3 separate regions of the Homo sapiens genome follow, and all the other regions are linked to region 1. Evidence: fine-mapped expression QTL. A gene starts in region 1. Each other region holds a variant in brackets. All regions are shown on one strand. Distances are between the middles of the regions. Region 1 holds the start of QSER1 (glutamine and serine rich 1). Region 2 overlaps LOC105376615 (a long non-coding RNA gene). Region 3 overlaps QSER1 (glutamine and serine rich 1).

Region 1 (4,244 bases):
AATGTATAAACTTAAAACAAAAGTTCACTTCTGTCGTGAAAAATAATGAAGAAATCTGATGAGATCATAAAGCCACGAAGCTTCCTGTTGGTAGCTGAGGATGAAGTCATTAGCAACCCAGGATTCCCTGGTCCATGTAATCAGAAGCTGCACCTACCAGATTCTGTATTGTTCGGGAGAGGTGGCTTTAAAACACCCCGCTCACCAATTCTCCAAACCAGACCACGCCTTCCAGTTATCATTCAAATGGGACCGTTTCACAGTGTGGCACTACTACACATTTCCCGCGAGCTTAAATATCAAGTAGGAGTCAAAATTTTAGATTCCCTTGGTCATGCAAGATGAACTCTTGAACCCCACGCTACATAATGCACCCGGACCTTAAAGGCCGAGATGGAGAAGCATGCTTTGGTTCTTCAACCTTTACGGCCTTCACTACCCCCACCCCAACCCCCGCCCCATTTCTTCCCAACTCTCAGTCACCCCGAGGCATAGAAGGCAAAGAAAGATTCCTTACTTCCTGCTGTTGTTAAAAGGGGAGGAAACCTAAGAGCAACTTTGAACGCGTGGAAGAAAAATCGCCTAAATCTTGGCCACCAGCGCAAACATATGTCACCCGGCCCTGGAGCCGCGTTCGCGCCCTGCCGGGCCCCCTCTTCTGCCCTGCGCCCCGGGGATTCTCCCGTAGCCCAGCCCTCCCGGGCCCCCCAGTGTCTCCGGGACGCGGTTCCGCGACTCTTCCTCTCCCGCCTCCGCAACCCTCACACGCCGGAGTCCCCAAGACCGCATTGTCGGCCACCCAGGTTCCAATACAATGGATCGCCACTGCCCCAAACTCTCCGGCGCCCCCTTCGGACCCCCGGCGCCAATCCTGGGTCTCACAGATCCCGAGTTCAGCCACGAGCCCAAACTTCACCATGTGAGAGCCCAGGACCCAAGAGGTGACGGAGCCCCACGACTCCCGCCCAGCTATTCCTTCACCCGCCGTCCCCAGGCGCGAATCCTGCACCGGGCGCCCCCACCTACCCGCGACCACCCCGTAGGAGTCATCAGCCGCCTCCCCCGAGCTGGCCGAGGGCGAGCGGAGGGCTCCCCGCCCGGCCCAGACCTCTGGGCGGCGCTGCAACCGAGCGAAGGCCCCAAACGCATCCCCGGCCTTTCCTGGTCCACCGCGACCCCGCCGCCCACCCTCCCTACCTGGCCTTGAGGCTGGGGCTGCTGCCGCTACTGCAGCTGCCACTGCTGCAGCTGCTGCTGGCGGCGGCGGCGGCGGCTCGGGGTTCGTACGCCCAGGCTGGGGCGGGGGGCTGCGCAGCGGCGCTGGCGGGGACGGGGGCGGCGGGGGGCGCGGGCGGCGGCGGCGGCGGCGGCTCGGTGAAGCCCGAGGTCGCGTAGTTCCTGTCCATCGTGGGGGTGGCGTAGGGAGGGCGGGCAGCAGCGGGGGATCCTCCAGGGCTCCGTGTGACGGGGGCGGGCAGGGAGAGGGGGCGGGGGAGGAAGAGGGGGCGGCGGCGGTGGAGGGAGCTGCCCCCTCACATGGCCCCGGCGAGCAGGCGGGAGAAGGGCGCGCTGGCGAGTCTGGGCCGCAAAGACCCGGGCCGCGGCGGGCGGCGAGGCCCCAGCTGGGCGTCAGGGAAGCGGAGGCACCCGCGGCCGGGACTCGCGGCGACGGCGGCGGCGGCGGCGGCCGCTGCGCCCCATGTTGGTGGATTTCCCAGGATGCACCTCCCGCCCCCCTCCGCCCCGCGGCCTTGCCCCGCCTCCCCTCTGAGCCCCGCGCTTGCCGCTCGCGGGGCTGGCGGGCGGCCGCGAGGCCTCCGCCACCGCAGGACGCTTCGCGAGGGACAGTTGGGGCCGAGAAGGCGCGGGTCCTGCGGGGCCCGGCCGACTTCAGGGACTCCGAGGGGCGCCCGCCAGCCGGAGCCCGCGAACCGCAGACTTCCCGCCTTCCGCAGCCCGGAAGGGAGCTGTCCGCACTCGCCGCGGCCCGCGTGGGAAGGGACCGCGCCTGGCTATCGCCCCGCGCGGGGGAGGGGAAGTGGAGTGGAACCCAGCGTAGGGCGCTGCTCAGGGGTAGCCGGGTCAACGCTTTGCTTGGAGCTCACTATTTGACCCTTCGGGTTATTTTGAGGGACTCCAGTACTCAGTTCCCTGATCGCGATTTCTTTCTCTGCGCCCCAATCCAGAAACAGCTGAGCGAGCTCTTTTGCAGTTCCGCTTACTCCCTCCCCAAAGCTTGCTGGGCTAGAGGACCCTTTTCCTGCTGTTAGGGGAGATTTATATTCAAAGAGATTCAAATTCAAACGTATTATTTTCCAATCCTCGCTGAAAGGGCCTTTCCCAAGGGCTCTTATTAACTGTCCCCACCCCCACCTTGGGGATTTTTCTCGCTCTGGGTTTCAGAATCTTCTATCCCAAGATAGATAACCACCTCTTCATTGATTAATCCAACTACCATCTGGATGACTTTAATTACAATAAATTTAAACTCACCATGCACTCTGATGTTGAGGGGTTTTGTTTGAGACTTGGAACTTCAGCAGGACTCTCTCCCCAAACATTTCCTATCTGATCTCCAAGCTGCTTGGTGTGCGGTAATTTAATGACTATTTGCGGTTCTTCTGTTGCATAGCAGAGTTGTATTTCTTGTAATAACTCACAAGTATTGAAACTAGGGAATCGTACAAATCATCGTTTGGCCCTTGGGCCATAAATTTAAAGGTTAAAATAACAGTAAAATTTCTATTTAATGACCACCTCCTTTTAAAAATCAATATTGGTTTAACACCTATTATGTGCTTAGCACAGAAATCTATCCCTCAAGATAAGCATAACATAAAGGTTTAAGCAAATCAGCCGTAGTGAAAGACCTAATAAACTTGATACGCTATCTCTGATGACCATTGAAAAAGTTTAAACTTTGGTAATAATCTGGTGTTGGATCTGCTATGCCTTGCGAGATTAATTTTGTTCTGGAAGATCCTGTTTTCCTCCTGGCGCCTACATCCTTTTGTTCCTATTCATTCCTTTTTGCAAGTCTTTCTGCACCTGTGATGCTTGGAGCCTGGTCCCCGGGTGGGGAAGCAAGGAAGTGAGTAGTCGTTATTTACACATGAATTCAAACGTGTAGGCACAGCGACTTTGCCAATTTTATGTTAATTACAAAATGCATTTACTGAGGATATCTTTGAAAAGTGGTTTTTCTTTGAAAAGGAATTTGCGAACTAATCTGAGTTCATGCAGAGAAGTAACGTAAATCTTCATTACATTTATTTTTCTTCCTGCAAACTGGAAATGTGGGATCTAAATTAAAAAGTTTTCACAACTAGCTATTATATTTATAAGTACTTTTGTGAGCGCTAAAGTTTTGTCTCTATGAAAAGTATAGGAAATGGAGTGGCATGCTATAAATGTTTTATGACACTTAGTTTGAGATACCCACAACTGGCACTCAGAGTGAGTTACGCAGGCAATACCAAACAAGTGGCAATAAAACCTTTATAGTCCCTCACACCATTATGTAGTTTGTTTATGTCACATAAATCAGGGAAAGATATTAAGGGAAAATTCTAGTGAGTATTTTTAGTAATATTACTCTGTCACCATATGTTCCTTTGCCATTTAAATGAAATTTCCTTAGTTCACTCTAAATCAGTACAATTATATTTATTTTCAAATGTTACATGTCTACAAATAACATCATTACATTTTTTATCAATACTATTTTTAATTGACAAATCATAATTGCATACATTTATGGGGTACAATGTGATGCTTTGATATATGTAAATAAATCTTTTAAAAATTTTGTACACTTGATGATACTATCTGAAGAATGTCTTCTTCCCTACTGAAAATATACTTCCAGCTCTGTGAACGTTTCGGGATCTCTCAAATGATTCGTAACCAAGCTGCTTCAAGTCTGATCTAGGTAATGTCAAACTCTAGAATGAGCATTGTTGGTCCCGTGTTTTTGTTTGTTCGTTTTTTCAGACAGTCTCGCTCTGTCGCCCAGGCTTGAGTGCAGTGGGGTGATCTCGTCTCACTGCAACCTCCGCCTCCCGGATTCAAGCGATTCTCCTGCCTCAGCCTCCTGAGTAGCTGGGAATACAGGCGCATGCCACCACGCCCAGCTAATTTTTTTGTATTTTTAGTAGAGACGGGTTTCACCATTTTGGCCAGGCTAGTCTCGAACTCTTGACCTCAGATGATCCGCCTGCCTCAGCCTCCCAAAGTTCTGGGAT
Region 2 (4,244 bases), 98 kb before region 1:
ACACCTTGTCTCAAAACTGAACATAAAGCTCAGGGAATTAAGATGGTACACTAGAAAATCTATTTAGCACAAAAAAGGCAATAATGGAAAATGGAAAAAGAAAAAAGACATAAACCTTTAGAAAACAAATAGCAAAATGTCAGAAAGAAACCCTACTTTATTATAATGACATTAAACATGAATGGATTAAAAACTCTACTCAAAAGACAGAGATTGGCAGAATGGCTTAAAAAAAAGCATGATCCAACAATATACTGTCTGCAAAAGATACAGGTTAGATTCAAAGACATGGATAGGTTAAAAGTAAATAAACATTATCAGGCAACTAATATGTACTTAACAGTGTGCTAGGATTGAGGTATAAAAAGAGAAATAGGACACTATTACCTGTTTTCAATTTCCATATGGTGGGAACAGCTAAGATGTCTAAAAACAATTCCATGGCCATGTGAGAAGTGATAGAAAACAGGATGCTCAGAATTATTTGGGATCACAGGAGGAGTTTCTCAGACTGTCTGAGGGAAAATAGTAGTCTTCTCTATGGAGCTATGTTAAACTTGAGTGTTAAAGGATGTTTACTGGATAGAAGAGGAAGGGGAGGAGGAAGACTTCTTGGTAGGCAGAAGAAATATGGTCAATAAAAGCATGAAAGCATGCTTAAAATGGCGTGCTCAGCAAAAACAAAGAAAAAAACTTGTGTAGCTTCAGAGTTGTGTCTATAATTATAGAGATGGGAGATCTAATGGGAAACTAGGTAGGAAATATAAGGTGGGCCACATCATGACCAGTCTGGTAATCAAGGAGACAAATTCTGGTGACAGTGTGCAGATTAGATTGGAGGATTACGAATCTGGGGGCAAGCCAGATGCGGTGGCTCACGCCTGTAATCCCAGCATGTTGGGAGGCCAAGGCAGGCAGATCACAAGGTCAGGAGTTCGAGACCAGCCTGGCCAATATGGTGAAACCCCGTCTCTTCTAAAAATACAAAAATTAGCTGGGCGTCGTGGCATGTGCCTATAGTCCCAGCTACAGGCTGAGGCAGAAGAATCGCTTGAACCCAGGAGGTGGAGGTTGCAGTGAGCCGAGATCGTGCCATTGCACTCCAGCCTGGGTGACAGAGTGAGACCTTGTCTTAAAAAAAAAAAAAAAAAGAATCTGAGGGCAAGGAGACCAGTGAAGCATGAAAGAGACAGGTGATAAGGACTTGGTCTAAAAAGTACTATTAGTTTGTACTGAAGGGAAGTTAGATGGAGGTGGGGAAGGGAAAGTTGAACAGATTTCTTCCTTCCTTCCTTCTATGCGTATTTCTTCTGCACCTATTAATTGATGTGTATGGTGCTCAGTGAATGTATAGAACTAGGTGGATGATTAGATGTGGTCAGAGAATGAAAGTATCAAAAATGATTTCTATTATTTCTAGCTCAGTCAACTGTGGATAGGGAGGGTATCCTCACTTTTAAAATCAAGGTAAAAGAATTAGAGGAAATTTCCAAAGAATTTAATTTATCAATATATCAAACTCAAGACCTTTTATAACTGATGGCCATTAATTTTGGTAAAAAACACATAGTATAGACTTTTACCCTCTTAATCTTTATTTATTTATTTATTTATTTATTTATTTATTTATTTATTTATTTATTTTAGACAGGGGCTCACTCTGTCACCAGGCTGGAGAGAAACCACATGATCATGGCTCACTGCAGCCTCAATCTCCTGGGCCCAAGCAATTCTCCCTCCTCAGCCTCTCAAGTAGCGTAGACCACAGGCATGAACCAACATGCTGGGCTAATTTTTTCTTCTTTCTTTTCTTTTTGTAGAGATGGGGGTCTCCCTATGTTGCCCAGGCTGGCTGTTTAACTATTTTAAGTATACGGTTCAGTGGTGTTAACTATTTTTCACTTTCTTGTGTACCAGATCTCTAGAAACTTTTTATTTTGCAAAACTGAAAGTCTGTATCCATCCCACAACTCCTTTTTTCCCCTCTCCCAGCCTCTAGGAACCACAATTCTGTTTCTATGATTTTGACTACTCTATATACCTCCTATAAGTGGAATCATACAGTATTTATCTTTATGTTACTGGCTTATTTCACTTAGCATAATGTCCTCAAGGTTAATCCA[G/A]GTTGTAATATGTGGCAGGATTTCCTTGTATTTTTAAGTCTGAATAATATTCCATTGTATAGATATACCATATTTTCTTTATCTGTTCATCTGTCAATGGGCATTTAGGCATTTTTGTAATTGTGAATAATGTAATTAATATGGGTATGCAAATATCTCTAGACCCTGCTTTCATATCTTTTGGATATGTATCCAGAAGTGAGATTGCTGGATCATAAGGTAATTCTATGTTTAGTTTGTTGGGGAATATCCTTACTGATTTTCCATGGTGACTGAACCATTTTACATTGCCACCAGCAATGCACAAGTGTTCCAGTTTTTCCACATATGCACCAACACTTATTTTTTTTTCTTTATACAATTTTTAAAAAATATATAGAGTCTCACTGTGTTTCCCAAGCTGGTCTCAAATTCCTGGGCTCAAGTGATCCTCCTGCCTCGGCCTCCCAAAATGCTGGAATTACAGACATCAGCCACTACTCCCTTCCCTCCACTCCCCTCCCCTCCACTCCCCTCCTCTCCCCTCCCCTTCCCATCCCTTCCCTTCCCATGGCCATCCTAATGGGTGTGAGGTGATACCTTGTTGTAATTTTGAATTGCATTTCTTTAATGGTTGGTGATGATGAGCATTAATTCATATGCTTGTTTGTATTTGTATATCTTTTTTGGAGAAATACGTGTTCAGGTGCTTTGCTTGTTTTTTAAATGGGCTACTTTTTTTTTGTTTTTGAGTTGTAGGAGTTCTTTATGTATTCTGGATATTAACCTTTTATTAGATGTGTAATTTGTAATTATTTTCTTTAATTCTGTAAGTTGCCTTGCACTTTGTTCTTTCCTTTGGTATGCAGGAGTTTTTGAGTTTGATGTAGTCCCATGTATCTATTTTCACTTTCATTGCCTGTGCCTTTGGTGTCATATCCAAGAAATCATTGCCAAGTACAATGTCATGAAACTTTCCTCCTATGTTTTCTTCTTCTAAGAGTTTTATAGTTTTAGGTCTTATATTTAGGTCTTTAATCCATTTTGAGATAAAATATCTTATATAGTGTAAGGTGAGGTTCCAACTTCCAACTTTCATGGGTGGATATTGTTCTATCAGCACCATTTGTTGAAGACACTGTCCTTTCCATATAGTGTGGTTGTGGCACTCTTGTCAAAAATTATTTGTGCAAAAGAACAGAAGAAAATTCAGTTGACCATATACATGAAGGATTATTTCTGGGCATTCTATTCTGTTCCATTGGTCTGTGCATTTGTCTTTATGTCAGCACCACACTGTTTTAATTACTATAGCATTGTAATGTGTTTTTAAGGGAGGAGACCACCCCTCATATTGTCTTATGCCCAATTTCTTCCTCCAAAGAAAGAAGAAGTAAAAACTAAAAGGTAGAAATGGAATCCACAGGCAGATAGCGCAGCACCACGCCCTGGGCCTGGTAGTTAAAAATCAACCCCTGACCTAACTACTTGTGTTATCTATAGATTTCAGACATTGTATGGAAAATCATTGTGAAAATCCCTGTCCTGTTCTGTTCTGTCTGATTACCGGTGCATGCAGCCCCCAGTCATGTACCCACTGCTTGCTCAATCGATCACGACCCTCTCATGTGGACCCCCTTAGAGCTGTAAGCCCTTAAAAGGGACAGGAATTGCTCACTATGGAAGCTCGGTTTTTGAGATGTGAGTTTTGCCGATGCTCCTGGCCGAATAAAGCCCTTCCTTCTTTAACTTGGTGTCTGAGGGGTTTTGTCTGTGGCTCGTCTTGCTACATTTTGAACAGACTGCAATATTGATAGGGTCATTACTTCTGGTATTTAGCAGATGATTTAATAGAAATTCATCTGGGGTCCTGCTGTCATTTATGGCAGCAGTCCCCAGCCTTTTTGGCACCAGGGACCAGTTTCATGGAAGAAAATCTTTCCACAGACCAGGAGTGGGGGTGATGGTTTTGGCATGAAACTATTCCACCTCAGATCATTAGGCATTAGTTAGATTCTCCTAAGGAGCATAAGATTCTAGATCCCTTGCACGCGTGGTTCACAGTAGGGTTCTGCTCCTATGAGAATCTAACGCCGTGACTGATCTGACAGGAGGTGGAGCTCAGGCAGTAATGTGAGCAAT
Region 3 (4,244 bases), 80 kb before region 1:
ATTTTTGCTGTGAAGTTGATATGTTGCCAAACTGTTTTCTGAAAAGGTTATAACAATTTATACTATGTTTGAAGATGAACAAATTCCAATTTTAATGACTTTGCAGATATGAAATAAACATTTCATCTTTTTATGGAATGTGTTCTGCACACTTACTTATCTATGTGCATGCATATACAATTAAAAATATACCTATATTACAAGTAATGCATATGTTAATGAGTTTGAATTAGCCATTTCACAATGTACACACATTTCAAAACATTTTGTACATAATATATGCAATTTAAAAAATGAAAAACTACCTACAAATATATAAACATGAGCACGAGATGATTTCTTCCATATTAGTCAATTTAAGAAATTTGTGAGCACATATTATATGCCTGATACTGTGCTATAGAAAAACAATAAACCACCATGCGTCCCTGTTCCTCAGGCCAGTGACGCTTATTCCTACCTGAAAAACCTTCACACTTAATGACAACATAGTAAAATATTTGCTTGTTTCAATGTTTTAAGTAGGAATTGTATTAACAATTGGAAAAGGTATAGTTACATTAATAATCAATTACACTTACTTGTGCAGATTTGGTGGTTGTTTTAGAAGTCCTTAGAGTTTTCTTATTATAGGCTTTGCCATTCATTTTGATTTTAGAAATAGCAGTTCCTCCACTCTTTGCTTTAGAATCTCGAGTAATTATTGTTAGTTCAGGAAAACTTTCCAAAGCATTCTGGAAAACAATGAAGCAAAATAACTGACACCAGAAGAAAACTAACCTAAACTACTTCTAGCTATCTAAAATTTAGAAGTGTGTGTGCACACAAACACCTATTTGCAGAGAGGTGTGTGTGCACACAAACACCTATTTGCAGAGAGGTGTGTGTGTACTGATGGGATATGCATACATATACATACACAGGTTGGGGTTTAAACATGGTCATAAGCTCTTTGCAGCCCTTCCTATTGGATATGTAATCTATTTCCCTTAAATCCCTTAAATCTGAGCCAACTCTATGACCTGCTTATTTAAGCAACAGCACACCACACTGGGAACCCTTAACAGGGCCAAGAGTTCTTTCTAGTAATGTCTCTGGCTTCAAGGCAGGAGAAAGGAAGACATACATGTTTCACTAAAGCCCTACCACTTAAACCACTGCTTGCCCCGTGAAATGTGGCTGGGCCTTGCTATAAAGAAGTCATCTGCCTCTGGTGAAGATGACGACAGAGGAGAAGCGGCACTGTAGTGCTTCTCTGGCTTCACTCTTCTCTTGCTTATTTTGACTGCAAGACAAGTACTTGTAAGATAAGATCCTAAAACAGAGCATGATGGGTTTTTTGACAGTGGTTATGTGGCAAAACCAATTCCACTCCATCCTTTAAAAGCCACTGGTGGCCAGGAATGGTGGCTCATGCCTGTAATCCCAGCACTTTGGGAGGCCAAGGTGGGCAAATTACTTGAGGCCAGGAGTTCGAGACCAGCCTGACCAACATGGCAAAACCTTGTCTCTACTAAAAATACAAAAATTAGCTGGGTGAGGTGGTGCACACCTGTAATCCCAACTACTCAGGAGGCTGAGGTAAGAGAATCGCTTGAACTCGGGAGGCAGAGGTTGTACTGAGCTAATATCATGCCACTGCACTCCAGTCTGGGTGACAGAGAGAGACTCTATCTCTAAATAAATAAATAAATAAATAAATAAATAAATAAATAAATAAATAAGCCACTGGCCTATTTATGCCCTTACCTACTTGGCAAATCATTCTGCCTGACTGAAAAGCTACAAACAATAACTGAATGATACTTGTGGCAACATTTAACTAGTTTGATTATGACTTTATAAAAATTAAATCGAGCTCCTACCATCATTTATTATTTTGACACTAAAAATGTTGAAGTCCTCCTATTATATTTATGATTCAGAATGCAGTCCAAATTCGATAAGCGCAAGTGTTTTATAAACAGTTACAACCTTTAAAGCCACTCTTCTCCAAACTCATCTATTGTTTCCAAGCACCTGGTATTGGGGCCCTGAAAACAGTACTGTTTTGTTTTTTTTTTTTTT[TG/G]AGATGGAGTCTTGCTCTGTCATCCAGGCTAGAGTGCAGTGGCGTGATCTCGGCTCACTGCAAGCTCTGCCTCCTGGGTTCACGCCATTCTCCTGCCTCAGCCTCCCGAGTAGCTGGGACTACAGGCGCCTGACACCACGCCCGGCTAATTTTTTGTATTTTTAGTAGAGATGGGGTTTCTCTGTGTTAGCCAGGATGGTCTCGATCTCCTGACCTCATGATCCGCCCACCTCGGCCTCCCAAAGTGCTGGGATTTCAGGCGTGAGCCACCGCGCCAGTCCCGAAAACGGTACCTTTTTAAAAACAGGCAACCTAAATTTTTCTTAGTATAAGTGTAGAAGGGCACTAAATTTCATTTGATAGAAACAATAACACTTTTGGCATTTTCTACCACAGTGAGCTACCATCACGTTCGAGCTTCGTTCCTTTCTCAGATTATTTGTGCACTTATCATGTACTCTGGTGTTTTCTATTTAAAACATGCACCTTGACAATTTTTGGATCCAGAATTATTATTTGCAACAAATAGAATTTAAAGTCTAAAGATTCTAAATTTGGAAACAACACACACTAAGTCAGTGGAGATGAAAGAAGAAAATTTAAATCTTTCCAATGACCACAAAATGCTTAAGATGATCTGAAGTACACAGATTTCAGAAAAAGGCAGAACATCATTACCTTGAAAAAGCTTCAGGACTCCTAACATCACCAAGATCAACATAGGAAAGCACACTAATTATTTCTAAAGAACAGAAAAATCTTTCTTTCTCTACTATTTGTAATATTTTACTTCAGATCAGTCTAACTCTTAATATTATGTAATTTTGCTTTGAAATGCAAATTGCTAAGGCTGGGCATGGATTACACCTGTAATCCCAGCACTTTGGGAGGCAGAGGCAGGCAGATCACTTGAAGTCAGGAGTTCAAGACCAGCCTGGCCAACATGGTGAAATCCTGTCTCTACTAAAAATACAAAAATTAGCCAGGCCATCCCAGCCACTCCAGAGACTGAGGCAGGAGAGGAGGAGGTTGCAGTGGGCGGAGATCGCGCCACTGCACTTCAGCCTAGGAGACAGAGCGAGAGTCTGTCTCAAAAAAAAAAAAAAAAAAAAAAAAGCAAATTGCTTTATATGACAATTATCAAAATTAATAACTAATAACAGAATTAGAAATCTTGTTAGAGAACTGGTTTGACATTTCAACAGTGATTAGCCAAACCTGGTAATTTTTAAGATTTAGTAAATCTTTAGAAAACACCTATCTAAAAATGTTCCCTTGTCTCCACAAAATATAGTATTTCACAAGAGAATATTTCATTTATTTAAAGGCAGCAGTTAAGCAGAAAACACTGGGCTAGGGCTGGGTGCCGTGGCTCATGCCTATTAATCCCAGCACTTTGGGAGGCGGAAGTAGGCGGATCACTTGAAGTCAGGAGTTCGAGACCAGCCTGACCAACATGGTGAAACCCTGTCTCTACTGAAAACACAAAAATTAGCCAGATGTGGTGGTGCATGCTTGTGGACCCAGCTACTTGGGAGGCTGAGGCAGGAGAATCTCTTGAACTCAGGAGGTGGAGATGGCAGTGGGCTGAGATCACACCACTAGACTCCAGCCTCGGCGAAAGAACAAGACTCCATCTCAAAAACAAAAACGAACAAACAAAAACTGGACTAGGAGTCAGGAGACCAAATTCTTAGTACTGGATTTCTTACTAGCTTCTAAATTTTTTTTCTTCCTGCGAATACATGGCAGTGAAGAATACATGACTACTATGATAGTTTTGTGTCATTTAATTTTGAATGCAATCTAATGGCCTCAGTTTTCACCTAATTGAAATGAAGTCAATACTCACTTTTACATGGAGTTCACATAAAACAGGGATGTGAACAAGTTATACAAATGTATAATATTGTTACCATCAATTAAAAAATGTTCCCTAAGGTAGATATAACCAAATGATTCTTGATGTGATATTATACTTTGAATAAGAAAGGCTACGGAGTAATCATTCTGTGATTCTCTCCCATGTGCACGTTAATAAATTTGCATGCCTTTTCTCCAACTGAAATAAAAAGCTCGGCCGGGTGCAGTGGCTCACGCCTGTAATCCCAACACTTTGGGAGGCCAAGGTGGGCGGATCATCTGAGGTCAGGAGTTCGAGACCAGACTGGCCAAC

Evidence for each region. PIP is the estimated chance that this variant, and not a neighbour inherited with it, causes the effect. A credible set is the group of variants that fine-mapping cannot tell apart.
Region 2: its variant is the best candidate, but not a certain one, in a credible set for the expression of QSER1 in whole blood (INTERVAL, PIP 0.61).
Region 3: its variant is the best candidate, but not a certain one, in a credible set for the expression of QSER1 in prefrontal cortex (CommonMind, PIP 0.51).

The regions. Positions count from the first base shown.
Region 1 is chr11:32,890,288-32,894,531 of GRCh38, reverse strand. QSER1 (glutamine and serine rich 1) reads right to left here and starts at 1,721. Exons shown (of 13, transcript NM_001076786.3): 1 at 1,198-1,721. The coding sequence starts at 1,406. RefSeq lists silencers at 949-1,348, 1,429-2,048 and an enhancer at 2,796-3,370.
Region 2 is chr11:32,988,054-32,992,297 of GRCh38, reverse strand. All of the region lies in intron 2 of LOC105376615 (a long non-coding RNA gene), which reads left to right. Among named protein-coding and RNA genes, the nearest start is that of DEPDC7, 26 kb to the left of the region's middle. The variant G/A (reference allele first, on the strand shown) is at 2,124.
Region 3 is chr11:32,969,887-32,974,130 of GRCh38, reverse strand. It overlaps QSER1 (glutamine and serine rich 1), which reads right to left. Exons shown (of 13, transcript NM_001076786.3): 11 at 582-734. The region is part of intron 2 of LOC105376615 (a long non-coding RNA gene); the gene reads left to right. Among named protein-coding and RNA genes, the nearest start is that of DEPDC7, 44 kb to the left of the region's middle. The variant TG/G (reference allele first, on the strand shown) is at 2,068.